Linked DNA regions of Homo sapiens: all the other regions are linked to region 1. The links come from fine-mapping of genetic effects on gene expression. A gene starts in region 1. Each other region holds a variant in brackets. All regions are shown on one strand. Distances are from middle to middle.

Region 1 (10,160 bases):
ATTTGCATTTTGTCTCCCACCACGAGGTGAGCTCAGGAGGCGGGGGCGGCTTTGCTCCCTGCTGTGTCTGCAGCTCCCATGGGGAGCCCCATCCACAGTGAGCTCCCTGGGAACACTCACTAGATGAATGAATGAAGGGGAGCCCAGGGGACTGGAGTGGTTCATTTATTCGTCATCCTCCTGAGGCCTGGGGAGCTCTCTAACAACCAGATGGCCAAACAGAGGATGAGGAGCAGGAAGGGGACCCGGGAGGAGGCCCATGAGGTCCCAGGACAGCAGGAGAGAGTGAGGTCCCAGCAGGCAGGAGGCAGCGTGCTGGACAAGGAGGGGTCCACCGTGACGATGCTGAGAGCCGGGGGAAGGAGGACAGAGAAGTCCTGCAGGATTAGATCTGGCACCAGGAGGCCTTTGGTGCCGGGGACAGGGGCGGGTTCTCACCCGAGTGTCCATTTCCACCCCGTCCTCAGGCTGTGTGTTCTTCACGGCAGCACCTGCTGGGGTAGAGCAAGGGGTTCATCTCCTGGGAAGGTTCCCTGGGACCTCTCATTCCTGCTGGTCCCTGCCCTGTTCCCATTAGTGCCACTGCAACGCAGGGAGGGGCTGTGATGTCCCCGAGGTCCCACAATGTGGGTTCAGACCACTTCTCCCTGAGTCCCTGACCAATCCTAGCCTGTGCTCCTGCCCCCATTGCTATTGAAATTTTGGGACCCCCAGCTCCACCCCAGGTGCACCTTCTCTGCCTCTCACTCACAGAAGTTTTCTCCCTGGACGTCAGCAGCTGGGCTGGACCTGGGGGAGGATACGGGAGTGTAAGGGGACAGTGAGGTGGCTGTTGGGATGGGTGGGAGTCTGAGGTCTTTGGGCAGAATTACCTCCTCTGTAGGCCCCCGTCCTTGGGCTCTGGCTCGGCAGCCCCTGGAGGACGTTGGAAATCAGCCTGTCTCTGGGCTGGGGGAAGATGGACAGAGTCTCAGCTCTGGGAACGTTAGAACCACCTGCCTTGCACATGCAAGTCAAGAGGAAAGGAAACCTGAAAATACACTTGCAAGGATGTTTTAAATACTTTCTAAGTTTAGAAAAACCGAAAGAATAAAGCACTTCCATTACTCCCTCATTCATTTTCTTCTTTCTAGATTTTCTCACTGGGAATTTCTGGAGCAGAGTTTCTAAGATGACCTCTCCTATCTGGAGTCCCTTTGGCTGGTGCCCTGAGCCCACCCTCCATCAGCCCACGGGTCCCCCAATTTCCTACTTACCCAATGTCCTGTGTTTTCCCTGACGCCAGTGTTGGAGGAGGAGGAAGAGGAGGAGGGAGAGAAGCAGGATGGAGACCACCAAGACCCCGATCAGTACCTCCCAGTGCCTTCTCAGACCTTGGGCGTGATGACATCAGGAATGGGGATGATGTCATTGATGTGCACACCTACTGTGTGTGCACCTACTGTGTGTGCTGGGTCTTTCTTTCATTACCTCCAACCCTCACAGCAGTTGTGCAACCTGAGATTGCCACCCTCTCTCCACCCATTTCACAGATGCACAAACTGAGGCTCAGAGAGGGGAATCGCCTGCCCCAGACCCCTCCAGCCAGGAAGCGGCAGAGCTGGGAAGGAAACCCGGGAGTCTGAGCTGCAGCCCTTGTTCCTGCACCAGAGCCAAGCCCCAGAGTTGCAGGGAAAGAGCCTGACTGTCTTGAACCACCGCCCTGCTCCCCTCCCCTGCCCCAGGTCACCGTCTCTGCTGCAGGTGGGACCGGACAGGCCCCTGCGGAATCGGGTCTGGGAGGTTCCCTGGGAGGCCTCCTCTCCCAGGAGGGCACAGCTGGGAGTCAGAGCTGAAAGGAACTTTCCCACCCGCAGGCCTCTCTCCTTTACACTTGGAGAAACTGAGGCCCATGCAGGGGAGGGGCCTGTCCACATCACCACCTCCAGAGGAGCCTTAACCTAGGACAGAACCCACCCTTGGCTCCCCTAGACCCTGCCCACCTCCCACTCAGAGCCCCTCACTCACCACTGTGGGGGACTGACCCTGTAGGCATGAGGGGCTGGTCCTCAGGGCCTGCTGGGTTAGAACAGGGATGTGAGGGCTGGGGCTGCCCTGCTCCCCACATCAGCTCGGCTTCTCCCCGCAACATCTCCTTCAGCCTTGACCCCCTCACCCCTCACCAGCCCAGCCTCAGGGCCTTGGGAGCCTGTGGTGCCTCCCAAGTCGCTGCCCGACTCCCACACCCGTGGAAGCAAGCCCAGCTGAGAATTGGAACGAGGACTTAGATCCACTGAGCATGTCTTGAGACAGGCCTCGGGCTTTGGAAACTCTCTGGACAGAGGCCTCTGAGACTCACCAGCTGTTGAGACGGACCTTGTGGGTGAGGGCCTGGGACCCTCCAAGGATCCTGGGTAGAAGGACAAGAGGAGGGTGAGAGTCTGGGGTTGCCCTTGGGTCTCCACATCAAATTGAACCTCTCCCTATATCTGCCCTGCAGCTTCCCAAGGACCATTTCTCTGTCCACCTGGCACCTTCTGGACCCTAGGTGAGGGAGAAGAGCATGGGCATGCCTGGGAGGGCCCCTGTTGTCCTCCTCCCCTCTGAGGGCTGAGTCCCCCACTGGCTGAGCCCCTCTCCCTCCATCCCTGCCCAGAGCTCTCCTGGCAGCAGGGCATGAACGGAGCCACTGAGCTCAGAGAGGACAGGGTCAGGAGCCTCACCTGAGACTATGAGCTCCAGGGGGTCACTGGGGTGTGACAGCAGGTAGTGGGAGAAGCCGTGTGAGCTGAAGCACCTGTAGGTCCCCCCGTGCACTGAGGTCACAGGACTCATGGGGAATTCAGCCTGGTGCTGCTGAGCTCCGTGCTCTGATCTCAGATGCAGTAGGGGATGGGCTGCCCGCTCCTTGATCAGAAGAAAAGTGTCCATTGGGCTCCGTGACTGACACAGCAGGGTCACGCTCTTTCCTGAGGTCACAAGAGGACTCGGCAGGGCTGAAAGGGTGGGTTTACTGTAGGCTCCTAGGAGAGAAGGAGGCACCGTGTTAAATGGGGCTCCCACCTCCCACATCATCCCCAGGGCTGGGCTGTGAGAGGGAGATGCCCCTGAGAGCTGACCCCCTTCCTGAGGGCAGAGCCTGGGGCTGGGACCCCTGAGTGTCCTCTCACCTGTCATCACCAGCTCCAGGGGGTCACTGGGCTGTGACCAGCCTACAGGGCTGCGATAGTAACAGCGGTATCTCCCTGCATAGTCCTCTGTCATGGATGGGATGGAGAATCTGGCCTTGTTCTTGGGCTCCAGTGGGTTCTGTCTGTCCCAGGGTGCTGGGCTTTCCTCTTTATCCAGACGGTACTCCCGAGCCTCCAGGGTCCCCTGACACCAGATGGTCACAGAGTTCCCCCAGCTGATCACAGAGCCTGGCTCAGCCCAGAGGGTGGGTTTGGGGAGGGGCCCTGGAAGAAAATCAGAGGCTGGATCCCAAGACCTTCCTCAGCCCTCAGATCCCAGCTCTCAGCCCCAGGACCCCCCCGTCATCCTCATCAGTCACCCAGAACTGCTGTCTCCTCCCCCAGCTGCCCATGGGTGGCCCCTTGTCCCAGTGAGGAGGAGGGACCTGGGACAGCTGGGGACAGACTCACCTGCCTGCATGTGGGTCCTGGGGCCCAGACTCAGCCCTGGAAGAGAGTTCCCTGTGAGGGATTTGCCCCGGAAGCCTGAGCAGGTCCTCTCTTTACCCTGAGATTTTTTTTTTTTTTTTTTTTTGAGACGGAGTCTCGCTGTCACCCAGGCTGGAGTGCGGTGGTGCGATCTTGGCTCACTGCAAGCTCCGCCTCCCGGGTTCACGCCATTCTCCTGCCTCAGCCTCCCGAGTGGCTGGGACCACAGGCGCCTGCAACCACCCCCGGCTAATTTTTTGTATTTTTAGTAGAGACAGGGTTTCACCGTGTTAGCCAGGATGGTCTCGATCTCCTGACCTCGTGATCCGCCCGCCTCGGCCTCCCAAAGTGCTGGGATTACAGGCGTGAGCCACCGCGCCCGGCTACCCTGAGATTTTTGAGTCTCCTAAAGAACCAGGGCCTGGCTGTGAGGCAAATTTCCTCCAAGACTCGGGTCTCCCCTCCCCCTCTTTAAATCTCACCGAGGCAGAGCAGAGCCGTGAAGGTGGGGATCATGGCGTCTCCTCCCAGGGGCCCCAGCTGTGCAGATGGATGAGTCCTCAGTGCCGGCAGGACAAAGAGACACACAGGGTGTGGCCGCTTGGAGGCTGGGTCCTTCTCGTCATGGGGTTGTTCCATCAGCAGCCCACAGGAAGGGAAACTGCCCTCATTTGAACCCCAGCCTGGCTTTCATTTCCCCAGAGCTAGGGCTGAGGCAGGCACCAGGTTCTCTGCAGACATTTCAGACAGAAATGGGGTCTCTCTGATCCCAGCCTGCTGTCTGCCTGGTCTTAATTCCTCTCTTGACCAAACATCAACCCGTATGTATCGTGTGTTTGCAAAGCGCCTGACACTGGGGGTACATCATTGAACAAGTGAAAAAAAAAAAAAACCAAAAACCTGCATTTTCAGGGTACAGATGAACCATAAAGCTTCCTTTTGCTGCCATAACAAATCACCACAAGCTTAGTGGCTTCACATAATGTAGGTTTATTGACTTACCGTCCCGGAGGTCACAAGTCCAAAATGGGTCTCCCTGGGCTAAAATGAAGCTGCTATCAGAGCCGTGTCCTCCTGGAGGCTCCAAGGAGAATCTGTTCCCTCGCCTGTTCAAGCCTCTGCAGGCTCCCGCATTCCTGCCTCTCCATTCCCTCCAACCTCAAAGCCACCAGTCCCGTTATCTGCCCCCTGCTTCCATGCACTCACCTCCTTCTCTCACTCTGACCCTCCTGTCTTCCTCTTTCACTTACTCAGCCCCTTGTGATTACATCAGGCCCACCTGGGTAATCTCCCCAACCCAAGATCCTTGACTTAATCACATCTGCAAAGTCCCTTTTGCCACATAAGCTTCCCCAACTCACAGGGTCTGGGCCTCAGGAGGTGGACATCTCTGGGAGGTCACTATTCTGCCTCCCACAGGCCTTCAGGGACTCCTTTAACCAAATCTCACATAGAGCACTTCTCTGCGATGACGGAGAGTGGCTGGGCACGCCAGTCGAATGCTTGGTGGGCCAGTACGCAGCCAGGTCATGGTCGGCTACTCATGTCCCATGGGACCTGCCCACTTGAGGCCAAACATTCCATCTCCACCAGAGCCCGGTAGACATCTAAAAACTGTGTCGCAAAACAAAACTCATTCTCTGCAGCGCTAGCACGATGTAGCTCCAAAATATATATATATATTTTTTCTTTTCTGAGATGCAGTCTCACTCTGTCGCCCAGGCTAGAGTGCTGTGGTGTGATCTCAGCTCACTGCAACCTCCGCCTCCTGGGTTCAGGAGACTCTCCTGCTTTAGCCTCCTGTGTAGCTGGGATTACAGGCACCCGCCACCACTCACAGCTAATTTTTGTATTTTTAATAGAGATGGGGTTTCACCATGTTGGCCAGGCCGGTCTCGAACTCCTGACCTCTGGTGATCCGCCCATCTCAGCCTCTCAAAGTTGCTGGGGTTACAGGCATGAGCCACCACGCCCAGCCAAGCATAGATTTTAAATGTTTTCACAGATGTTAGTATGCGGAGTGATGGACATGTTAACTGTCTTGATTCCATCATTCCACAGTGTATACATTTATAACACATTGTACCCCATAAATATATATAGTTGGTGAATTAAATATTTAGTAAAATTATTTTGAAAAGGAAAAAAGCCATAAATACATAACAAGCAAGCAAAAAGGCCAGATAGCTTCAACCCTTAGATCACTGCCTGTGTAAAACACTTCAGGTGGCCAGCTCTCAATAATCATCCATTTGAGTGGGCACGTCCTGCAATGATCTGGAATTGTAGTCTGTCCTAGATGGTGACTAACCATTTTCTGTCTCTGTTCTTCTTAAAAGGATGAGAGGACCTTCTAACTTTAGAACTGAAACATAGGGTGGGAGGGGAAAGAGGAAGCAGAAAAAACAAACCCCAAATTAATTGTATCTAACGGTCAGGAAGGCAAAGAAGGAGAGGCTTGCAGGAGGCTGAAAGTCAAAGTGCCGGGAAACGCATGAACACCACTGCCCTCAGGTTTCCAAGCACCTGCTTTTAGTACCTCATTCCGTATCCTTTTGGGTCACTCTCAGAATCACGGGACAGTATCTCATTTCGAGGATTTCCATGTGTCTCTCCACATTTGTGTGTAAGGACCTTATTGGAAGCTATTTCAGCCAAAGCTTGATGCGTCTGACAGTGGCTGGGGAAAAAGAAACTCCCAGAAATGGGGGCTAGAAAGCCATACACATATTGGCGAGTATCTCCTGTTTTGGCGGGAAGTTCTGGATGATGGTCTGCACATTATCAGAGATCCTGGTGTGGACCTGTCCATATTACCTGCTGTAGTGGTGTCCGCAATGCATGCTGATTTCAGGAATTCCTCTCCTTCTCTCTTTCATAAGGGAACCCTATTCCCTTAAACTTGGTTCCCAAATCAGTTACCTGCGCTCATATCCTTGTCTTAAGTCCTGCTTTCAGAGTAACCTGTGCTAGGCAAGGACTGGGAAATGCCAGGAGGTTTTTCGATGTCATCACCCCTTTTCTAACCGCTCAACATGCCTTGCCTTTACCAGTCCTGGACTTCTTGTATTTTGCTTCTTTTTTTTTTTTTTTTTTGTGACAGGGTGACACTCTGTCATCCAGGCTGGAGTGCAGTGGTGCAATCTTGGCTTACTGCAACCTCGGCCTCCTGGGTTCAAACAATTCTCCTAACTCAGCCTCCCGAGTAGCTGAGAGCTGAGATTACAGGCAGCTGCCACCACACCCGGCTAACTTTTGTATTTTTAGTAGAGATGGGGTTTCACCATGTTGGCCAGGCTGGTTTCGAACTCCTGACCTCAGGTGATCTGCCCGCCTTGGCCTCCCAAAGTGCTGGGATTACAGGCGTGAGCCACCGCGCCCGGCCTCATTTTGCTTTTGTATTCGTGCACTCACCACTCAGTAAATCTTATCCATCCTCACTTAAGAAACATTTAAACATGTCAACCTGTGGCCATCCCAGGACACAAGAGATAAAGGCGAGCAAAGCAGATATACTGGATTCACAGTAACCCAGACTTCATTTCAAATTACCTCCCCTCCTAGAAAATCTAGCATCCTAGCAAAAATTAAGTTGATAAAATCACTACGCAAAAAGTTTAGAGATAGGACCAGTCCCGGGAAGGAAAGATTTAACGCAATAGGACAGGATAAAAGAAATACCCACTGGGTCCTGCACTCACCACCTGGGTGCAATAGTTCCATGTAGCAAACCTGAGCATGTATCCTCGTATCTAAAATAAAAGTTGAAGTTCAAAAAATAAAGAAGAAAAACAGAAAGCAATTGAGATGGAGGGTGGTGAAGAAGCTGAAGGAGAGGTCAGATGGTGATGATGAATTGGTATTATCTGAATGAAGGGATGCCTGGAGGTGGAGAGAGAAGCATTGCAGGAGGTCCTGGTCATAGGTATTCAAACGGGTGGATCCTAAAGCCTTACAAGAAGTAAAAAGACCACAAGAGTCGTTCATTCATTTCCAAGTATATTTCACTCTAGAGTCAAGCTTTTGTGAGATACTGAAAACAGGACCTAGTTGGAATGAATCATAAATTTCCATCTTAACTTGGGGTCACGGGTGTTCTGTGATTCATAAGAACCCATGTTTCATTGTTTCGTTTTCTTTTTTTTTATTATTATACTTCAAGTTCTGGGATACATGTGCAGAACGTGCAGGTTTGTTACATAGGTATACACGTGCCATGGTATTTTGCTGCACCCATCAACCTGTTGTCTATATTAGGTATTTCTTCTAATGCTATCCCTCCCCCAGCCCCCCAGCCCGTGACAGGTGCCGGTGTGTGATTTTCCCCTCTTCGTGTCCATGTGTTCTCATTGCTCAACTCCCACCTATGAGTGAGGACACGTGATGTTTGGTTTTCTGTTCTCGTGTTAGTTTGCAGAGAATGATGGTTTTCAGCTTCATCTGTGTCCCTGCAAAGGACATGAACTCATCCTTTTTTGTGGCTGCATAGTATTCCATGGTGTATATGTGCCACATTTTCTTTATCCAGTCTATCATTGATGGGCATTTGGGTTGGCGTATTTGATTTTATCCAGGGTTCTACAGATGCCAAGGAAGGGGTGCAGCTCTACTTAAGTTTACCTCTTGGTCTCTCCTTGGGACCTCCTCTGACTGTGCCATGCCTGAAACACCAACCCCTCTGTCACCACCAGGATCAATTGCAACTGCTCCATGCACATGAGACTACTGCATAGTCTGGGAGCAGTTGGCCTGGGGACAGTGGGATTGGAAGACCATGGAGGGTAGGAGAGCTCGCAGTCCACACAGCAGCCAGAAGGGAGGATATTTCAACATTCTCAAATCAATAGATATGATATCTCATGTCAACAGAAGGAAGAACAAAAAACATATAATCATGGGCAGGCGCGGTGGTTCATGCCTGCAATCCCAGCACTTTGGGAGATTGAGATGGGTGGATCACTTGAGGTCAGGAGATCGAGATCAGCCTGGCCAACATGATGAAACCCCATCTCTCTCAAAAATGCAAAATATTAACTGGGTGTGGTGGTGTGCACCGGTAGTCCAGCTACTCGGGAGGCTGAGACAGGAGAATCTCTTGAACCCAGGAGGTGGAAGTTGCAGTGAGCCAAGATCGCGCCACTGCACTCCTGCCTGGGTGAAGGAGAGACCCTCTGTCTAAAAAAAAAAAAAAAAATTATATGATCATCACAATAGATGTTAAAAAAACATTTGACAAAATTCAACATCCCTTCATCATTAAAACTATCAACAAATTAGGCCTAGAAGAAACACACCTCAACAAAAAATCCCCAGATAATTCCATTAACAAGTATGCAAAGCATCTGAATAGTTGCTTCTCAAAAGAAAATGTACAGATGGCCAACAGCTATATAAAACACTAATCATCGGCCAAGCGCGGTGGCTCACACCTGTAATCCCAGCACTTTGGGAGGCCAAAGCAGGTGGATCACTTGAACCCAGGAGTTTGAGACCAGCCTGGGCAACATGGTGAAACCTCATCTCTACCAAAAATACAAAAAAAGAAAAAAAAACAGCTGGGCGTGGTGGCATACACCTGTAGTCCCATCTACTGAGGAGGCTGAGGCAGGAGGCTCACTTGAACCCAGTAGGCAGAGGTTGCAGTGAGCCAAGATCACACTACTGCACTCCAATCTGGGTGACAGAGCGAGACTTCATCTCAAAACACAAACAAACAAACAAAAACCCACAATCATCACTGGCATCAAATCGAAACTACAATGAGTATCATCTTATTTCAGTTAAAATGTCTATTATCAAAGAAACATATAAAAACATGCTGGGCTGGGCACAGTGGTTCACGCCTGTAATCTCAGCACTTTGGGAGGCCGAGGCAGGCGGATCACGAGGTCAGGAGTTTGAGACCAGCCTGGCCAACATGTTGAAACCCCGTCTCTACTAAAAAGACAAAAATTAGCCGGGCGTGGTGGCGCCCGCCTGTAATCAGGAGGCTCCTGCTACTCGGGAGGCTGAGGGAAGAGAATCGCTTGCACCCAGGAGCTGGAGGTTGCAGTGAGCTGAGATGGCACCACTGCACTCCAGCCTGGGCGACAGAGTGAGACTCCATCTAAACAAACAAACAAATAAATAAATAGATCAATAAAATAAAATAAAAACATGCTGGTGAGGATGTGCTGACAAAATAACTCTTAGACACTGTTGGTGGGAATATAAATTAGTACAGCCATTATGGAAAACATGGAGATTCCGGCCGGGCGCGGTGGCTCACACCTGTAATCCCAGCACTTTGGGAGGCCGAGGCGGGCGGATCACGAGGTCAGGAGATCAAGACCATCCTGGCCAACAGGGTGAAACCCTGTCTCTACTAAAAATACAAAAAATTAGCCAGGCGAGGTGGCAGGCACCTGTAGTCCCAGCTACTCGGGAGGCTGAGGCAGGAGAATGGTGTGAACCCCGAGGGGCAGAGCCTACAGTGAGCCGAGATCACGCCACTGCACTCCAGCCTGGGCGACAGTGAGACTC
Region 2 (10,160 bases), 54 kb after region 1:
ATAGTTTACTGAGAATGATGATTTCCAATTTCATCCATGTCCCTACAAAGGACATGAACTCATCATTTTTTATGGCTGCATAGTATTCCATGGTGTATATGTGAAAGTTAGATCTTCTTGAATGGAATGAATGGAATTCTCATGGGAACATGATCAGGGTTCTAAGATCCATGAAGGTGTCAGTTTGAGTGATACACATTTTTTTTTTTTTGAGACAGAGTCTAACACTGTCGCCCAGGCTGGGAGTGCAGTAGGGCAGTCTCAGCTCACTGTGACCTCCTACGTCCCAGGTTCAAGCGATTCTCCTGCCTCAGCCTCCCGAGTAGCTGGGATTACAGGTGCTTGCCACCATGCCCAGCTAATTTTTGTATTTTTAGTAGAAACGGGGTTTCATCATGTTGGCCAGGCTGGACTCAAACTCCAGACTTCAGATAATCTGCCGGCCTCTGCCTCCCAAAGTGCTGGGATTACAGGCGTGAGCCACTGCACCCTGCCTTGAGTGATATACTTTTTTATCTGCAACAACAGACTCTTAGAGATCATCACAGGTAGCTGGAGAAAAATGTAAGACCAGACCATTTGTAATTTCCCTTGGTCCAGACAATTGTTGGTCCTATGAGAAACTGAATCTGGTACTTTCTCAATGTGAACTAGGAATAGTTTCACTTCATAGGAAATTGCAACCTACTTATTTTAGAAAACTGAGTGATATTAGAGTATCACATCCTGTTTGTACTTCTCCATGGGGTGTAGAAAAAAAGACAAAAAGGGTTTTGTGTGATACTTGGGAGATGTGAGCTTTTATAAAGACAAATATATATATACACATATATATACACATGTATAGTTACTATTATAAGTATCTGGCATGAGAAAAGAGACAGGGAACCAAGATTCTTCTTTATAACACCTTTTTCTGACCAAGAATCGAACAGAAACACATACTTCTTCTCCTCAGACACCAAGACTCAGGGCTGTCTCCTTGCTCTCAGGCCAGTAAGGAGTCTCCACTTTCCACCTGTAGTTCTTACAGATGAAGCCCAGTTGTCCCTACATGCCTATATATACAATCACATTTATAGGTGTTTTAAATTTCAAAATCTCTAAAACGTGGGCCTCTTCCATTTTGTACTTGAGTTTATATTGCTAAGATGCATGCCTATTAATTTTTAGTTCCATATTATTATTATTGTTTTCAACTTTTATTTTAGAATGCGGGGGCACATAACGCATGTTTGCTAGAAAGGTATATTGCGTGATGCTGAGGTTTGGAGAACGAATGAATCCGTAGACCCAGGTAGTGAGCATAGCGCCCAACAGGCACTTTTTCAGCCCTTGCCCTCCTCCCTCTCTCCCCACTCTAAGTGTCTCCGGTGCCAGGGCCAGACTCTGTCTCAAAGAAAAAAAAAATCACAGGAAACATCCTGTTGTTATAGGCATTGACAAAGCGTTTACAGCTAAGTCCTTGAACGCAATTAAACAAAAATAACAACTGATGAGTGGGACCTCATTAACCTACAGATCCAGTGAAGGCCTAATATTCAGAATCTAGAAGCAACTTACACAAATCAGCAAGCAACAAACAAACAGCCCCATTAGAAAGTGTGCAAAGGACATGAACAGACACTTATCTATGTCCACATGTGCCCAGTGTTTAGCTCCTGCTTACAAGAATGTGCTATGTTTGGCTTTCTGTTTCCACATGGCATCACTTAGGCTAATGACCTCTAGCTCCATCCATGCTGCTGCAAAGGACATGATTTCCATTTTGATTGCTGTGTAGTATTCTATGGTCCATATATCCAATCCATTGTTGGATGAACACCTGGGTTTATTCCACATCTTTGTTATTGGGAATGGTGCTGCAATGAACATATAGGTGCATCTGCCTTTTTGGTAGAATAATTTATTTTCCTTTGGGCATATACCTACCAATGGGTTTGCTAGGCCGAATTGTAGTTCAACTCTTAGTTCTTTGAGAAATCTCCCAACTGCTGTCCACAGTGGATGAACTAATTTACGTTCTCACCAACACTTGTTCCATTTTCTTTGCAGCCTTACCAGCATCTGTTATTTTTTGACTTTTTAATAATAACTATTCTGAGTGGTGTGGGTATCTCATTGTAGTTTTAATTTGCATATCCCTACTGATTAGTCATATTGAAGATTTTTTGATATGCTTCTTGGACATATGTGTGTCTTCTTTAGAAAAGTGTCTGTTCACGTCTTTTGCCCACTTTTTAATGGGGCTGTTTGTTTTGTGCTTGTTGATTTGTGTAAGTTGCTTACAGATTCTGAATATTAGACCTTTGCTGGATCTGTAGGTTTATTAGGTCCCACTCATCAATTTTTGCTTTCGTTTAATTGCTTTTGAGGACTTAGCTGTAAATACTTTGCCAATGCCTGTATTAAGGAAGATGTTTCCTATTTTTTTTTCTTTGAGATGGAGCCTGGCTCTGCTGCCGAGGCTGGAGTGCAGTGGTGTGATCTCGGCTCACTGCAACCTTTCCCCACCAGGTTCAAGCGATTCTCCTGCCTCAGCTTCCCAAGTAGCTGGGATTACAGGCACCTGTCACCATGCCAGGCTACTTTTTTTTCTTTTTTGTATTTTTATTAGAGACAGGGTTTCACCATGTTTTCTTCTAGGATTCTTATAGGTTTAAATCTTACATTAAAGTATTTAATCTGTCTTGATTTAATTTTTGTATATGGTGATATGTAGGGTCTGTCCAGTTTCATTCTTTTGCATATGGCTAGCCAGTTATCACAGGATTATTTTTTGAATAGGCCTGTTTTTGTTGGCCTTGTTAAATATCAGATGGTTGTAGGTGTGTGGCTTTATTCTGTTTCATTGGTCTATGTGTCTGTTTTTGTACCAGTGCCATAATGTTTTGGTTACTGTAGCCTTGTATTACAGTTTTTTTAAAAATGTATTTTATTTCAATAGCTTTTGGGGTACAAGTGGTTTCTAGTTGTATGAATGAATTGTATAGTGGTGAAGCCTGAGATTTTACTACACCCATCACCCAAGTAGTGTACATTGTACTTGGTACATAGTATTTCATTACTCACTCTCCACCCCCTCTCTCCCTTCTGGGTCTCCAGTGTTCATTACACCCCTTTACATGTCTTTGATTACCCATAACTTGGCTCCCACTTATAAAGTGAGAGCATATGGTATTTGGCTTTCCATTGCTGAGTTAGTTCACTTAGTGTCATGGCCCCCAGCTTCATCCAAGTTGCTGCAAAAGACATTATTTCATTTTGTTCAATGGCTGAATAGTGTTTTCTTGTGTATATGTGCCACATTCACTCATCAGCTGATGGACACTTACGTCGATTCCACATCTTTGCAATTATGAATTTTGCTGCAATCAACATTTGTATGCAAGTGTGTTTCTGATGTAATGATGTCTTTTCCTCTGGGATGTACACATTTGTTGACTGCAGTGGGATGCTAGTGGGTGCAGGGGTGCTGGCCTCCATGTCGGTGTTCAATGCGGTGGCGTCAGCAAGACTGGGTGGGGTGCGCGGGAGCCCCGCAGGCGTTCGTGTGCGCATTTGCACCGGTAGTGGTGTTAGCAAGGTGGCGGGGCTCCGGCCTCATGGGACTGTGTGCACCCTCTGTGTGCACTTCCACGCTGGCGGCTGCTGCTGTTTGCGGTGGGGGTGGATCCGCTGGTCTCCCTGTGTGTGATCACACCGGTGGTAGTGTTGGCGCCGGGAGGGTGGAGGACAGATGGGTACTGGACAGGGAATCTCTGTACCCACGAATGCTCTGACAGCAGTCCCAGTGCTCGGGGGTCGTTGGGTGAGTGGGTGAACTCACACCGGCAGCTGTGGCACTGCGAGGTGCACGTGCAACACACATGCCGTTGGGGAGGGGAGAGAAGGTCTGCTCAGGAGCACATAATGCTGGCAAAGCCCTGGCGGCAGTGGCTGTGGGCGAGCGAGTGCAAGCAAAGTGGCTCGGGGACACTGAGGTGGGGCGAGGGAGTGGGGCGGGCTGGTGAAGTTTGCAGGAGTGAGATACACTATGTGAGATTTCCTCGGTTATAAATAGCCTTGGGGTTTTGGCTTTCTCAAACACCAGCTTTGGTAATGAACCGGCCATGTGAACAGACTCAGGACCTCTTGGTTATCCAGGGGGTTGCTGGCAATGGTGATAGCTGAGGACATGCACACGTGTTCTCCTTCCTGGGTGCTGTGTTATTGAGCCTGCGGATGCTGTCCTGCACGGTGTCAGTCGGCCTCCAGCCCGGAGGCAGCGGTTGCAAAAGCGCTCCACATCTTTGCAATTATGAATTTTGCTGTGTTGGTCTTCATGGGCTTTTTGCCTTCCTTATGTTACGCAAGGGAGGCTGTCCGGTGTCTCAGGCAAAGGGCGAGGCCATTGAGCTCCCGAAAGTCTTTGTCCTTTGTGTTAACCTACCAGGGTGGGGGTATGGGCAGAGGCAGGTGCGGGCTGGGTCAGCCTAGTCCGTGCTCTCGCTTTCCAGGTGCTAAGTGGGTTCAAGCGAACCCTCCCCAGTAGCTGGAATTACAGGCGCACACCACACGCCAGGTTAATTTTTGTATTTTCAGTAGAGACGGGTTATTGTCATGTTGGCCAGGCTGCTTTTGAACTTCTGACCTCAAGTGATCTGCCTGCCTCGGCCTCCCAAAGTACTGGGACTACAGGTGTGAGCCACTGTGCCTGGCCGAAGATGGAACTCTTATTTCCAATATTGGAACTGTCAAATAGGACCTTTATTAGTGGAATTCTAGGAGAGAAGGAGGCACCGTGTTAAATGGGGCTCACACCTCCCACATCATCCCCCAGGCCTGGGCTCTGAGAGGCAAGATGCCCCGAAGAGCAAACCTCCTTCCTGAGGGCAGAGCCTGGGGCTGGGGCCCCTGAGTGTCCCCTCACTGTTACCACCAGCTGCAGGGGGTCTCTGAGTGCTCACCTGCCAGCAGGACTGAAATACTCACAGCAATATTCCCCTGCATGGTGCTTTGTCCTGAGTGAGACGGAGGACTCACGCTGTCCTGGGCTTCGGCGAGCTCTGTGTGCTCCTGAACACTGGGCTTTCCTCTTTATCCAGACCACACTCCTGAGC[C/T]TCTAGGGTCTCCTGACACCAGAGGGCCACGGGCCTCCCCTAGGTTATTACAGAGTCTGGTTCAGCCCTGAACGTGGGTTTGGGGAGGGTCCCTGGAAGGAAATCAGAAACTGGGTCCTATATCATTTACCACCCCTCAGATCCCAGCTTTCAGCCCAAGATCCCCCCATGATCCCTCTCAGTCAGCCCAGAGTTGCTGTTCTCCAGCCCCAGCTGCCCGGGGGTGGGACCCTGTCCCCGGTGAGGAGGAGGGACCTGGGACAGCTGGGGACAGACTCACCTGCCTGCACGCAGGTCCTGAGGCCCAGACTCAGCCCTGGAAGAGAGTTCCCGCTGAGAGATTTGCCCCTGAAGCCTGGGCAGGTCCTCTCCTTCCTGAGATCTTCCCTAATCCCCTGGGGTCTCCTACTGGACCAGGGCCTACCTGTGGGGCAGGGTCCCTCTCATGCTAGAATCTCCCATTCCCCTTGTCAAATCTCAGTGAAGTGGACCATGGCCGTGTGGGTGAGAGTCATGATGTTTCCTCCTACTGGCCCCGGCTGTGTGGGTGGATAAGACCATGGTGTCCACAGAACACACACAAAGGAAGGGTTCTCTCCCTTACAGGATTTTCCCACCAGCATCTCCATGGGTAGTGTACTGTCCCGGACCCCGCCACGAGCCTGGCTCTTGTTTTCCTAGTGCTTGGCCTGAGACAGGTACCAGGCTTTCTGTTGATATTTCAGACACACATGGGGTCTCTCCTCATCTCCTTTCACTGTCTGCCTGTCCTGTCCTCTTCTCATTAAGGGCCAGGACGTGGCTGCAAATGGACGTGGTGCCTTCCTGAGTTGATCCCTTCCAGGTGAAGGCAACGGAGGGTTCTTCCTTCCTCTCAGAGCCTCCTCATGGGGTTTCACTCTCTCCTTCAGCTCACCCATAAACACACTCTTGTGGGGAAACTACCATGGCCAGTCTTCTCACCAGTCCTGGGGAAGCTTCAGGGAAGATGCAAATTCAGGCTGCGGGGCAGACTCACATCAGCAGAGACTCATCTCACATCTTGCTCTGCAGTTCCAGTTGAGCTTTATTGCGGCAATGAACAGAAAGGGGAAATACAGGGAGACAAGGGAAGGAATCATGACTCTTTCCCCAGAACTGGAGTGTGGGTTTTCTTTATGCAAAAACGTTCCCTTCACGAACTTCTCATTGACTCATCGCAACAGCATCCGCCCCCGTCTCCCTGGAAACAACATTGACCTGACTCTGCCTTCTTGGTGCCCCCGTCTTCTTTCAAACACTCCTGTTCCCATCCTGTGCTCCTGAGTTCAAGGTTCTGGGACAATACGTGGGGTTAGCACTCTGCTTTGAGGGGAAATCTTGTCTTTATTTAAATATTCTTGTGTCACCCCCTGCCTGTGTGAACTTGGGCAGTAACCTCCCATCTCTGAGCCTTGGTTTCCTCATTTGGAGCCTGTCATGAACCCCATTTATCACAGGGGAGCTGGGTCATTGGAGCCTGGGGGCTGCAGGGGGCTCAGCCATGGGTAATTTCCAGAGCAGGTGAAGACAGGAGGGGTGGGGGCATGAGGGGATGCTGGCGCCCACCATCAAGGCCTGAGATTGATGTTTCCACTAAGGAGAGCCCCTTTGTTCCTGCCCTTGAGAGATGCTTCTCATAATATTTCATCAACACCCCGGTTATCACAGTCATGTCCAGAAAATGAGAAATGAAAGTTCATCAGAAGGAGAAGGATACACACGAAACAGAGAGGGCATCTGTGTCTGGTGCCATTAGGGGTCATTAGGGAGGAAGTTTCCATTTCTGTGCAGAACAGAAAAGGGGCCCTGGGTCCTCACAGGCAGAGAAGGGCCAGGGCTCTGGGCAAGGCTGAAAGCTGTGATGGAATATGTCTATTTACCGACCCAGGCCCATGGCCACCACTGAGCCAACTCCCCTGGGTGTGTGTGAAACAAATTCATTCACTGCAGAGTTCTTACATGTGGGTATCTGTATCATGTGTGGGTATGAGTTTTTTTTTTTTTTTTGAGATGGAGTTTTGCTCTTGTTGCCCAGGCTAGAGTGCAGTGGCATGATCTCCACTCACTGTAACCTCCACCTCCCAAGTGATTCTCCTGCCTGATTCTCATGACCAAGTGATTCTCCTGCTTCAGCCTTCTGAGTAGCTGTGATTACAGGTGCCCACTACCAGGCCTGGCTAATTTTTTTGCATTTTTAGTAGAGACGGGGTTTTGTCATGTTGGCCAGGCTGGTCTTGAACTCCTGGCCTCAAGTGGTCTGCCCACTTCGACCTCCCAAAGTGCTGAGATTACAAGCATAAGCCACCGTGCCCGGCCATGAGTGTGAATTTCACATGCATTTTTTTCCTTCTGGGAGCAACCTGAGCAGACACTATGTTTGGGAAATGAATGCCACGTGTCATCAGTAGCTGGAACAGTCCCCCATTTTCAGTCCTGGATTACTAAAAACTGCCTTGAGAGGATCCCTCCATGGTAGCTCAGGAGTGTAGGAGGTGAGTGTCCAACAAAAATAGACAACCAAGAGCCATCCTTCTAATGATAAAAAGTGCTATGATCATCAGTCTACACATTTGTTGATAAGGATTATTATGTGCAAAGAAATAGAATACTAGGAACGCATAAGACCCTTTTTCAATTAAACATGTTTAAATATCTGAAAAAAATACAAGAGGAAATTAAATTTCTGAGACAAGAATATGGATTATACTGGCAAAAAATGAGCATCAGAGAAATGAGTTAGAAATCCTAGAGGCAAAAATTCAGTTGAAGAAGCACACTCAAAATATTTATTCTATCAAGGTCAAGATACAGCTAAAGAGACATTTATTAAATTGGAAAACAAAATTGGGAGAATTTTCCAGAATGCACTATGGAGACACCAAAAGTGAAAATTCACCATATTTGGGGGAATATTGTGAGGAGGGAGAACCTCATATCTATTGTACGTGTCAGAAGGAAAGAAGGGAGAATAATGTCTGGCAACAGCTCACGAATTAAAGAGTTGAACATTTGACAGAGACGAGGAAAGACTAATTAAGTGCTAAGATGCATACATTTAAACATGCAATGTAAACCTTGACCTACCATGATAAATTGAAAAATACCAGAAGTAGATTAAAAAGTATATATGCTAGACTGAAATTGTCTAGCATAAATTGTATAGTTTAAAACACATTTTTGTGTCCTGTGATTTTCAACTCAACATGTCAGTAGAATAGCATGATCACTGGGATCGGACTTCCCAACAGAAAAATGAAAGGCAAGGAAATGTTGAAAATGTACTCTCAAGGGATTAACAGCAAGTGAGGAACTCTATGCTTACTCAGGTTAATACCTAAAAGTTAAAGGGGTCAGCAGGGGACCAATTCCTAAGCAGAAAAAGGCTCAGAGCAAGACAGACCTGTGAAGCCCATTAGGTTGGGCTTCCCCTGCATGAGGGCTGAGGAGGGATTGGAGGGTGGATCCCTCAATCATCAGATGTGCTTTCTCTTCCAGGTGTTATATCTTACCCTTTAATTAATATAGAAATGTTTTCATCTATTTTGATAGAGAAAGTGGGAGGAAAAATAAAGCATTATCTGAGCTGCAAGTTACTAGATATTACTGTTTTCATACTCAGTGAAAGCAATTTTAAATGATGTTATCCAGATAGATCAATGAATCCAAAATGTAGGATGTGAGATGCCGGTGATGAAAAGTGGGAAACAGGCAAGTATTTGAAAATTGCATGCACGCACACACACGAATGTAACTACACACACATATAAGAGTACATGTCTTTTCTAAAGGACAAGGATAAATGAATCTTCATTCAAAAATATATAATCGAATACTTAACTAAATTCATGAAATTATTCTAAATTATTCATTTTTTACCCCGTATGTTAAAGAGTGATTCCCCTACTCAGGATGAGTTAAATAGCCCAACACCCCCAATAACACATTAGGCATGAGACACAATAGTATCATCTAATATAAAATCATAATTTAAAATCAGTAAGGGAAGAAAGACATGCTGTTAAAATTATCTATTAGAAACATTAATAGTCCACAAAATGTAACATAATACAAAACTTTTTTGAAAATAGTGAAGTTTTATGTTTTAATGAAGGTATTAAGTGCTGGGTACGGTGGCTCACACCTGTAACCCAGCACTTTGGGAGACTGAGGTGGGAAGATCACTTGAGCCCAGGAGTTCAAGACCAGCCTGGGCAACATAGTGAGACTCATCTGTGTTAAAAAAAAAAAAAAGAGAGAGAGACGGTATAAAAAATGATAAAATAATTGTAAACTTTCATTCATCTAACCATGGGTTATTGAAATATATACAACATAAATTTGTATATATTTGGTGATTCAAAGAAATATTTATCAAGAACTGAGAGGTTAAGAAAAAAAATGAATGAGTATACAACTTAATGTTCAATCTGAATTACATACATATGGTAAAACTCTCTAGTTACATATGTTATAGGGTTTGTATATAGAAAAACAAATTCTATGTATGTATACATATATATGTTAATTTGTGTATATATTTACCTATTATGTACATAAGCACTATATGTATACACACACGGTATATATGTGTGTAGATGTGTAAAGAAATGTTACACAGTTTGTATGGAAAAAGAATTCACATATATATTCTGATATATTGTATACATACACTTACTCTAGGTGTTATGTGTGTATATATTTACATATTGCATACAAATACATTATATGTGGATATATAGTATGTGTAGATGCCACTGTACAGTATATATGTGTGTGTGAGTATATATATGTGTGTATATTAATGAACACATACCTCAAAGGGGGGAATGCCCATATTTATGACATACATTGCACGTAAAATGTTAAGTATTTACTGGACAAGGAAGGAAAAATCTCCAAATTTTTCTAAATGACTATCTTATACATTTTATTCCCAGACATGATTGTTATTTAGTTTGAAGTTAACAATAAAAAGATATTATGAGAAAACCTCAATATTGCTCAAAATTAATAAAATCCTCAGTCATTTTGTACGAT
Region 3 (10,160 bases), 110 kb after region 1:
GCGTTTTTCCCGGCTGTGCCTTAAAGCTGGCTTAATAATGCCTCCATTGAGGCCGGGCGCGGTGGCTCGCGTCTGTAATCCCAGCACTTTGGGAGGCCGAGGCAGGCGGATCACGTGAGGTTGGGAGTTCCAGACCAGCCTGACCAACATGGAGAAACCCCGTTTCTACTAAAATACAAAATTAGCCGGGCGTGGTGGCGCATGCCTGTAATCCCAGCTACCCGGGAGGCTGAGGCAGGAGAATCGCTTGAACCCGGGAGGCGGAGGTTGCAGTGAGCTGAGATCGTGCTGTTACACTCCAGCCTGGGCAACAACAGCAAAACTCCGTCTCTAATAATAATAATAATAATAACAATAACAATAATAATCCTCCATTGATTGAGACTTTTGCCTCGGTCACTCATTCTGGTCGTCAGTTTGATGATGCTCCTGACTCTGCTGTGTCCACGTCCGCAGCTCAGGCTCTACTGAGAGATGCCCGCCCACCCACGTCCTGACTCTGAGGGACAGGGTGCAGGTCTGCGGTGAGGGGACAGCAGAGGGTCCGTGGTCCTGCGTAGGGCCGTCCCGTCCTCCACAGGACCAGAATGTCCTTTAAAAGGCTAAAGCTGCAGGGCGCTACGTCACTAGCACCCAGGATGAGGCGGAGTCAGCCTTGTCTGTCTCTTCCCGCCAGTGGACATCATTTTTCCAGGCAGTCTGGGGGTGTATCCAAGAGTCTTGGCCCTGCCACAGCCCAGGCTGCCTGGCCCTGTGCAGAGAGCGGGTGGGCAGGGTTTTACAGAATCTCAGATGCTGCTCCTGGCTGTCGGAGAGCCCTCAACTCAGCGTTTCCCCAACAACACGGTGACATGGCGGAAGAACCAGGCGCACCTCGTGACCATCTGTGCTATGCCGTCTACACACATGCATGCACACACACACGCACACTCATACAATCTCACACACACTCACATACACACACACAACATGCACACACATACAATCTCACACACTCACATACACACATGCGCACTCACACACAATCTCACACACACACGCACACACACCATGCAAACACTCATACAATCTCACATGCACACACGCACACACAATCTCAGACACACACAACATGCACACACATACAATCTCACACACTCACATACACACACGCACACACAACACACACACACATACATATACTCACACACACTCATACACATACAAATAAACCCACACAGAAACACACTCAAACTCACACACACACACCTACACACACACACACACCTCCCCACATACACACAGATGCATGCAAATGCAACTACAGAGAGAGAAACAAAAACACACAAATTCAAACACGTACAGACAAAAACACACAAATATACACAGACACAAAAATACAAACATGCATACATATACACACCCAAACACATACAAACACACACACACAAGCACACACAGAAACACCCCTACAAACGCACACGCAGCTCTGCACAGAATTTTGGAACTTGTCTGAACCCACTGGGCTCCAACCTGCGATCAGGATGTCCAGGGGGTCCCTGGGGGCCGAGCACTCGGAGGAGAGGTTGTGTGCACCATACGTAGCATCTGTATTGGCCCCCTTGGGAGCGGCTCACAGGGCCCAGGGGGAAGTTGGCCTGGGAGAGCCCAGCCTCGGGCTGCTGGCCAGGGCGCTGGAGGAAGTCACGTGCCCCCTCCTAGTACACAGCGAATCTGTGGTAGCCGACATCAGAGCTGCACTGGAGGGTCAGTCCACGCAGGGTCCTTGGGGGTCAGGAGGGAGGGCTTCCTAGACACACATGGAGGGAACAATGACCTGAAACTGGAGGAGGCGGCTCCTCACAGACACCTCAGACCCTCCTCCGGACTTCCCATCTCATTATCTCTCATGGCTTATGGGAAAATGAGCTATTTTTGAGACCGTTTATGGTATAATGTAGGTTTGCTGAGGATCTCCCCAACAGCTCTGAAAGAATGTATTATATCTTTTTTAGGTCTTCAGAGTCTAAGGTGCTTTTGGGAACATTTGTTGAAAATATTTTTGCTGACGATGTTAAGAACCTGTTGAAAGGTTATTCTTAGGAGAGATACTGGAGAAGTGGGTCTCCATATTCAAATGACCTGGAGAAACCCCAAGAGGATGATTATTCATTAGAGCGGCAAGTATTTAGCATAATGCCGTTGAACCTGACTGTATCTAGAAGACACACACACACACACACATGCACACAAACAACCCTATGCACAACTAGTAAATAGCAAGCTCGGCTTTCATGTGGTTTTACACTTTCATGCAGATACGGAGGTGTTTGTGGAGGGGTCTCTGTGGGTTTCCCGTGAGTACAGAGAAGGAACAGCTGTGTGTGTGTAATGGGCACTGTAATTTCTAAAAATATAACTCACTGTAAGCAAGGTATTTGAGGACACACTGCCATTACAAAATGTTCCCAAATCTGGTGGCTCACGCCTGTGATCCCAGCACTTTGGGAGGCCGAGGCGGGCGGATCATGAGGTCAGGAGATTGAGACCATCTTGGCTAACACGGTGAAACCCCATCTCTACTAAAAAAATACAAAAAATTAGCCGGGCGTGGTGGCGGGCGCCTGTAGTCCCAGCTACTCGGGAGGCTGAGGCGGGAGAATGGTGTGAACCCGGGAGGCGGAGCTTGCAGTAAGCCCAGATCACGCCACTGCACTCCAGCCTGGGCGACAGAGCGAGACTCCGTCTCAAAAAACAAACAAACAAATAAAAAGTTCCCAAATTTGCCTCTGATGATTAAACATTACTGAAGTCCTAGATCTGTGCACACTTCCCTGAAACTTAGCATCACTCAGAGTTGCCAAGAGGCACATCATGTAACCTGGGATGAGTTCACAGCGCATGGTGGGCCTGAGACTAAGCTCAGGTATCTAAGCAGACTCAAATTAGGAACTTCGTCATTCTTGCACCGGAAATTATGGTTTTGTTGCTCAAATATTCTAAGTCAGAGAATGGGAAAGGAAAAAAATGGAGAAATCATGATTTTATATATATATATATATTTTTTTTTTTTTTTTTTTTTTTTTTTTTTTTTGAGACGGAGTCTCGCTCTGTCACCCAGGCTGGAGTGCAGTGGCGTGATCTCGGCTCACTGCAAGCTCTGCCTTCCAGGTTCACGCCATTCTTCTGCCTCGGCCTCCCGGGTTGCTGGGGCTACAGGTGCCCACCACCATGCCCGGCTAATTTTTTTGTATTTTTAGTAGAGACGGGGTTTCACTGTGTTAGCCAGGATGGTCTCAATCTCCTAATCTCATGATCTGCCCACCTTGGCCTCCCAAAGTGCTGGGATTACAGGCGTGAGCCACCACTCCCGGCCATCATCATGATATTTTTAAAAGTTAAAAATATCAACTCGTTTTCTTTTTTAAAAAAAATAATGCAAGCTAGTAAACTACAAAAAGTTCAACATAAAATAAAAGCAACCTTCGTGACTTATATTTACTGAGTTGGTGGATAAGCAAGAATTAGGACCTGGCTCTGGGTAGCTGGGAATGGAGGTGCTGTTCTCAGCGTGCAAATCTACATTGACTGTTTTCAGGAGCTTTCATTGTAGAGACCTAGGGAACAGCTCCTCATAACGGCCGCAGGGATGGTCATTCTGACTTCCCGTTCCACTGCACATCTGTCCTGTGCAGCTGAGAGGCGAGGCTGTGGCTCACTGCAGCATTATTGCACACGAGTGCTGTTCTGCCCCATAGAAGGCTCCAGACTACGCTCCACATTTAGGTCTTTTTCTTTCTATCTACCCTTTTCCAGTCAAAATGTTCATTTTGTGTTTAAGCTGTGGTGGACAGTGAACCCCCTACACACATTCCAGGGACTGGAAGCCTGCACACGGCTCATGTATCCCCTCACTTCGGGGCCTAGGTGCTGGCCGGGGATGTTAATGTTTCTGCCTGTCCAGGTAGCAGTGAGGGAGCCAAGGAGCGGTGCTGCGGGAATTCGCCAAAGCTCAGAATGTAATCATTTCCCAGGAAGCAGAGAGTCTAGGGGGAATGAATCTTCCTGGGGCCCTGAGCGAAGACAGAGGCATCAAAGGGACCCACATCCATGATGAGAGAACGCAGAACAGAAAGATTCCGTCAACAGCCACCCCGTGGGCAAGGCCGTCTTCCCTGGTGTGTTACCGGCTTCTGCTCAGTGAGACAAGTCCTGGTGGTGATAGGAGCTCGGCTGCATCACAGTCCTCCACCTGCGACCTGATGGTCTTGAGTGGCCGCTCCTCAGGGTGGGAAATGCTCTGCATGTCCCTGTGGCAGGGAAGTGCTCGGGTGCACGTTGCCCATGGTCACCTCTGTCGTGCTCTGAATCCCTGACACTCCAGACTGGATCCAGCAGAAGAGACGCTGACAGAGACTCCCTGGATCACAGAGCAGCGTGGTGACCCGAAGCAGAACAGGAGACTCATCTGTCCTCAGAAGTGATTCACCTGCAGCATGCGCCCTAGCCCGCGTCCACAGTCCAGAAACAGAACCAGAGACTCCTCTGCCAGGTGAATGTCCAAGGGGCTGCTCGGGGAAAGGCGCTGAGGCTGTTCCGGGAAACACGTGAGATGCGTGTGCACCCAGATCTCCACGTGTGGCTCTTACGTGATGGGATGGAAGCTGATTGGTGCTGCTGCCCCAAGGTTGTCAGTGCCCTCGACTGGAGGACAAACACCAACCCCGCCATCCCTGGATGGACAGACAGGTATAAAGACGCCGGCTATGCAAGGGTTCTGCAGGGAGCACCTGCAGTTCACGTGGTTCAACAACCCCAGTTGCCCCACAGTTGAGACCAGCCTGGTTGGTATCATGCAGGTGACTAAGCCTTAAAAAATGTTAAGACTGGGCCGGGCTCGGTGGCTCACGCCTGGAATCCCAGCATTTCGGGAGGCCGAGGCGGGTGGATCATAAGGTCAGGTGTTCAAGACCAGCCTGGCCAACATGGTGAAACCCCGTCTCTACTAAAAAAAAAATACAAAAATTAGCCGGGTGTGGTGGCAGGTGCCTGTAATCCCAGATACTCAGGAGGCTGACGCAGGAGAATTGCCTGAACCCAGGGGGTGGAGGTTGCAGTGAGCTGAGATTGGGCCACTGCACTCCAGCCTGGCAACAGAGTAAGACTCTGTCTCAAAAAAAAAAAAAAAAAAAAAAAAAAAAAAAAAGTTAAAATTGAAGCTGGAAGCCATCATTCTCAGCAAACTAACACAGGGACAGAAAACCAAACACCACATGTTCTCACTCATCAGTGGGAGTTGAACAATGAGAACACATGGACACAGGGAAGGGAACAACACACACCAGGGCCTGTCTGGGGGTAGGGGAAGGGGAGGGAGAACATTAGGACAAATACCTAATGCGGGGCTTAAACCTAGATAACAGGTTGATAGGTGCAGCAAACCACCATGGCACATGTATACCTATGTAACAAACCTGCACGTTCTGCACATATATCCCAGAACTTAAAGTAAAATAAGTAAATAAGAGTACAACGTGAGAGTTTTGAGAGAACTATTAACTTTTTGGTTATCTCAAATTTAAACCTGTCAAATGATTGTCAAGAATTTGAAGTATTCAAAAACTAAAAGTAAATACAGTAAAAATAAAATCAAAAGAAAGTATGAAGGAACATGGAAAAATGGACAAACCAGGAGAGTAAGTGCAAACAGGCCGGGCACGGTGGCTCACGCCTGTAATCCCAGCACTTTGGGAGGCCGAGGCGGGCAAATCACGAGGTCAGGAGTTCGAGACCAGCCTGGCCAACAGTGTGAAACCCCATA[T/A]CTACTAAAAATACAAAAATTAGCTGGGCATACTGATACGCACCCATATCACTCATATATGGGATTACATATGAGTAATCCCATAGACTCAGGAGACTGAGGCAGGAGAATCACTTGAACCCAGGAGGTGGAGTTTGCAGTGAGCTGAGATCGCACCATTGCACTCCAGCCTGGGTGACAAGAGCGAAACTCCATCCCCCCGCCCCACAAAAAAAGTGCAAACAATTTTCGTCCCAAATAATTATGAAATTTATAATTTCTCAGGGCACATAATGTTTCTTGATAGAAAGGAAAATGAAGAGTAAAACACTCATGTGTGGAAAGTTGGTTGATTCATTTTTCCACCAGATAAATGTTGAAGCTACACTTAACTATGAAGTGTAGGAACATGGAATACTTGAATTATCTTATCAGGTCACATTTATCATTGGTTGTAAATCACTTTTTAAAATGCTCACTTTTGGCCAGGTGCAGTGGCTCATGCCTGTAATCCCAGCACTTTGGGAGGCCGAGGCAGGCAGATCACAAGGTCAGGAGTTTGAGACCAGCCTGACCAACATGGTGAAACCCTGTCTCTACTAAAAATACAAAAAGTAGCCAGGTGTGGTGGTGGGTGCCTGTAATCTCAGTTACTCCAGAGGCTGAGGCAGGAGAATCGCTTGAACCCGGGAGGTGGAGGCTGCAGTGAGCTGAGCTCATGTCACTGTACTCCAGCCTGGGTGACAGAGAGAGACTCCAGAAAAAAAAAAAATGCTCACTTTCTGTTATTTTTGAGAGGATGGTGTGGAAGCAAAATTAAAATCATTTCTGGCTTGCATAGTTTCCCTTTAGCATCAGTTGACTCTGCGGCATAACCACCCTGTGTGCAGAGGCTCAGAGAGAAGACACGTTTTGGTCTTTCACTTTTACCCTGCTTATCAAAACGAGATTGCTGCAGGACCAACCTAGCTGTAGAATATACAATAGTAAGGGTAGGGCCGTCATGCAAATAGCCAGGCTGGGAGTGTGCCTGCCATTCACCCTCACATCCACTAACCAGCATTTGTCTCTTAGCTCACATATCCCAGACTGTAGAGGAAGCATGATCCTCCCTTTGGCCCAGGGAGACAGAGAAACTACTTCTGGGTAACATCAGAGGATCTCTGATGTTTGCTCCACGCTCTGCTCCCTGGAAGGGTTGGGTGTCCTCATCACTTACCAGACCTGAGTTGCTGATACCTCCTCCTATGGGCAGGATCCTTGGAGGGTTGCATTGAGTCCCAGAGGTTAATCAGACTCAGTCCTGCCTCAAAAATCTCATAGTCCCATCCTGGCCAACATGGTGGAACCCCGTCTCTCCTAAAAATGCAAAAATTAGCGGTGCGTGGTGGCACGCACCTGTAGTCCCAGCTACTCGGGAGGCTGAGGCAAGAGAATCTCTTGAACCTGGGAGGCAGAGATTGCAGTGAGCTGAGGTCACACCACTGCACTCCAGCCTGGCAACGACAACAACAAAAAAAACTCACAGTCCACACATGAAAGACCAGTGGGGATCAGGCCATAAAAACTCAGCCTATTGGGCACAGACACTGTGAGTCAATCAACCTCCTCACTTAGCCTATGAGATAAAGACATGTGTATGAAGGTGGATGTCTGCACTGAGATGCTCAAAAAAGGGAGATAATTACCAGGTGAAGAAACAGCATGTGACAATTCCATGAGCCAGTGACAGCTCGTTGCAGGCAGCAGTTTGTGAATTGCTCTGGGTAGGTGCCAATTCAAGTAGAAAGAAACAGAATAAAGGCTCAGAGGAAGACGTCATCAGAAAGCAGCTTCCAGAGCATGTTCTGTGCGGAGAATGGATGTGTGCTTTCTCTCCATGTGAAACCAGGGGACGAGAAAAGGTACAAATAGGAGGTTGTCATGAGCGTCTGTGTGAAGAGACCACCAAACAGGCTTTGTGTGAGCAACAAGGCTGTTTATTTCACCTGGGTGCAGGTGGGCTGAGTCTGAAAAGAGAGTCAGCAAAGGGTGGTGGGATTATCATAAGTTCTTATAGGTTTGAGATGGGCGTACAAAGTACATTCTCAAGGGCGCGGAGAATATTACAAAGTACCTTCTTAAGGTCGTGGAGGGGGCTGGCGTTGGGGGGAGGATATTACAAAGTACCTTCTTGGCGGGGGGTGGGTGGCAGTGGGGAGAAATATTACAAAGTACCTTCTTTTTTTTTTTTTTTTTTTTTTTTTTTTTGAGACAGAGTCTTGCTCTATCGCCCAGGCTGGAGTGCAGTGGCGCGATCTCAGCTCACTGCAAGCTCTGCCTCCTGGGTTCACGCCATTCTCCTGCCTCAGACTCCCAAGTGGCTGGGACTACAGGCACCCGCCACCATGCCCAGCTAATTGTTTTGTATTTTTTTAGTAGAGACGGGGTTTCACCACATTAGCCAGGATGGTCTCGATCTCCTGACCTCGTGATCCACCCACCTCGGCCCCCCAGAGTGCTGGGATTACAGACATGAGCCACCGCACCCAGCCTCGAAGTACCTTCTTAAGGGGAGGGGAGAATATTACAAAGTACCTTCTAAAGTTGTGGGGGAGAATATTACAAAGTACCTTCTTAAGGGGAGGGGAGAATATTACAAAGTACCTTCTAAAGTTGTGGGGGAGAATATTACAAAGTACCTTCTAAAGTTGGGGAGAATATTACAAAGTACCTTCTAAAGTTGTGGGGGAGAATATTACAAAGTACCTTCTTAAGGCGGGCGAGCGGGGGCAGGGCGGTGGGGGGTAAGGGGGCGAGGAATATTACAAAGTACCTTCTTGGGCGGGGCAGAATATATGGTATCAGTTAGTGGGGCGGGAACAAGTCACAGTGGTGGAATGTCATCAGTTAAGGCTATTTTCACTTCTTTTGTGAATCTTCAGTTGCTTCAGGCCATCTGGATGTGTACGTGCAGGTCACAGGGGATAGGATGGCTTAGCTTGGGCTCAGAGGCCTGACAGAGGTGACCTTCTCAAAGTTTGGGAGAAAATCTCTATGGCAGAAATTTGCATGAGGATAAGAGGTGATAAGACACTCCACAAGAGAACTCTGCTTGTTCCCCGCATTTCGTAAGATAAAGACATGTCACCATTGATGTGAAATATTATCGTTTTGTTACATTAGGTCTCTTCCAGGAGCCTGCACTGCATGAGAAAATAGGCTCTGCATCTTCAAATTTGCACCTTTAATCTAGAACAGCTAGAACTTCCTCTGACAAGGAAAACATTTTGTGTTCATGCTATTCTCTCCCACAGCCAGCAGCCACACGTGGCTCTGAGAACTCAAATTGTGGCCATGTGGCTGAGGAACTGAATTTTAAACTTCATGGAATTTGATCTATTCTAATTCTAAGTTAAAAAGCCATATTTGGCTAGTGGCTACCATATTAGATGACTCAGATATAGAATACACTTCATCTCTGCAAAATTTTGTTGAGTAACAGCAAAGACGTGGAATCAACCCAAATGCCCATCAATGATAGACTGGATAAAAATAAAGTTGTACATATACACCACGGAATACTACGCAGTCATAAAAAGGAATGAGATCATATCATTTGCAGAGACATGAATGAAGCTAGAAGACATTATCCTCAGCAAACTAATGCAGGAACAGAAAACCAGACACCGCATGTTTTCACTTATAAGTGGGAGCTGAACAATGAGAACACATGGACACAGGGAGGGGAACACATTCACTGGGGCCTGTCAGAGGAGGGCAGGGGGTATGGAGAGCATTAGGGAAGAGAGCTAATGCCTGCTGGGCTTAATACCTAGGTGACGGTTTGATAGGTGCAGCAAACCACCATGGCACACGTTTACCTACGTAACAAACCTGCACATCCTGAGCATGTACCCCAGAACTTTAAAAAAATTTTTTTAAAAAAACCTTATTGAGTAATTTAGAGATTAAACTGGCTGAGCATATACATCGGCTTTCCAGAAGCATGTCTGTAGAGTTTCAGGATAACTCAGATGATATTAATGAGATATCCAGGATGAGTGTGTGGGTAGAGTCAAATCACCTTAAATGGTTGGATGCTCAAAATAGAATTGTAGAATGGCTAGTTGTCTGTTCAGCAGTGCTGGAATTTTAAGATAATCCCACAAGCATTCAGACACTGCTGTTGCCAGCTTCGAGGTGTCAAGATGGTACCAGAAGGAGGAAGAATGTCCGTGGAAAAAAAATCCTCCTAGGAATAGATCCAGGTCCTTGCGTATTAATGCCCTTTGTGCCAAAGACTGGGGGCAGCTCTGGCCTCAGCCTGGGCTTGGTGGACAGTGATGTAGATACTAGGATCCTCCGAGAGGTAGTGGGGACACTGGGAGGCAGGAGGGAA

Evidence for each region. PIP is the estimated chance that this variant, and not a neighbour inherited with it, causes the effect.
Region 2: its variant is fine-mapped to the expression of LILRB4 in whole blood (TOPMed, PIP 0.97).
Region 3: its variant is fine-mapped to the expression of LILRB4 in whole blood (INTERVAL, PIP above 0.99).

The regions. Positions count from the first base shown.
Region 1 is chr19:54,657,028-54,667,187 of GRCh38, reverse strand. LILRB4 (leukocyte immunoglobulin like receptor B4) reads right to left here and starts at 4,203. Exons shown (of 12, transcript NM_001278426.4): 1 at 4,121-4,203; 2 at 3,621-3,656; 3 at 3,150-3,434; 4 at 2,703-3,002; 5 at 2,339-2,389; 6 at 2,008-2,058; 7 at 1,257-1,373; 8 at 873-948; 9 at 752-789; 10 at 439-491. The coding sequence starts at 4,154.
Region 2 is chr19:54,603,128-54,613,287 of GRCh38, reverse strand. No RefSeq gene overlaps it. Among named protein-coding and RNA genes, the nearest start is that of LILRA1, 15 kb to the right of the region's middle. The variant C/T (reference allele first, on the strand shown) is at 5,103.
Region 3 is chr19:54,543,609-54,553,768 of GRCh38, reverse strand. It overlaps the pseudogene KIR3DX1. Among named protein-coding and RNA genes, the nearest start is that of LILRA2, 25 kb to the left of the region's middle. The variant T/A (reference allele first, on the strand shown) is at 5,801.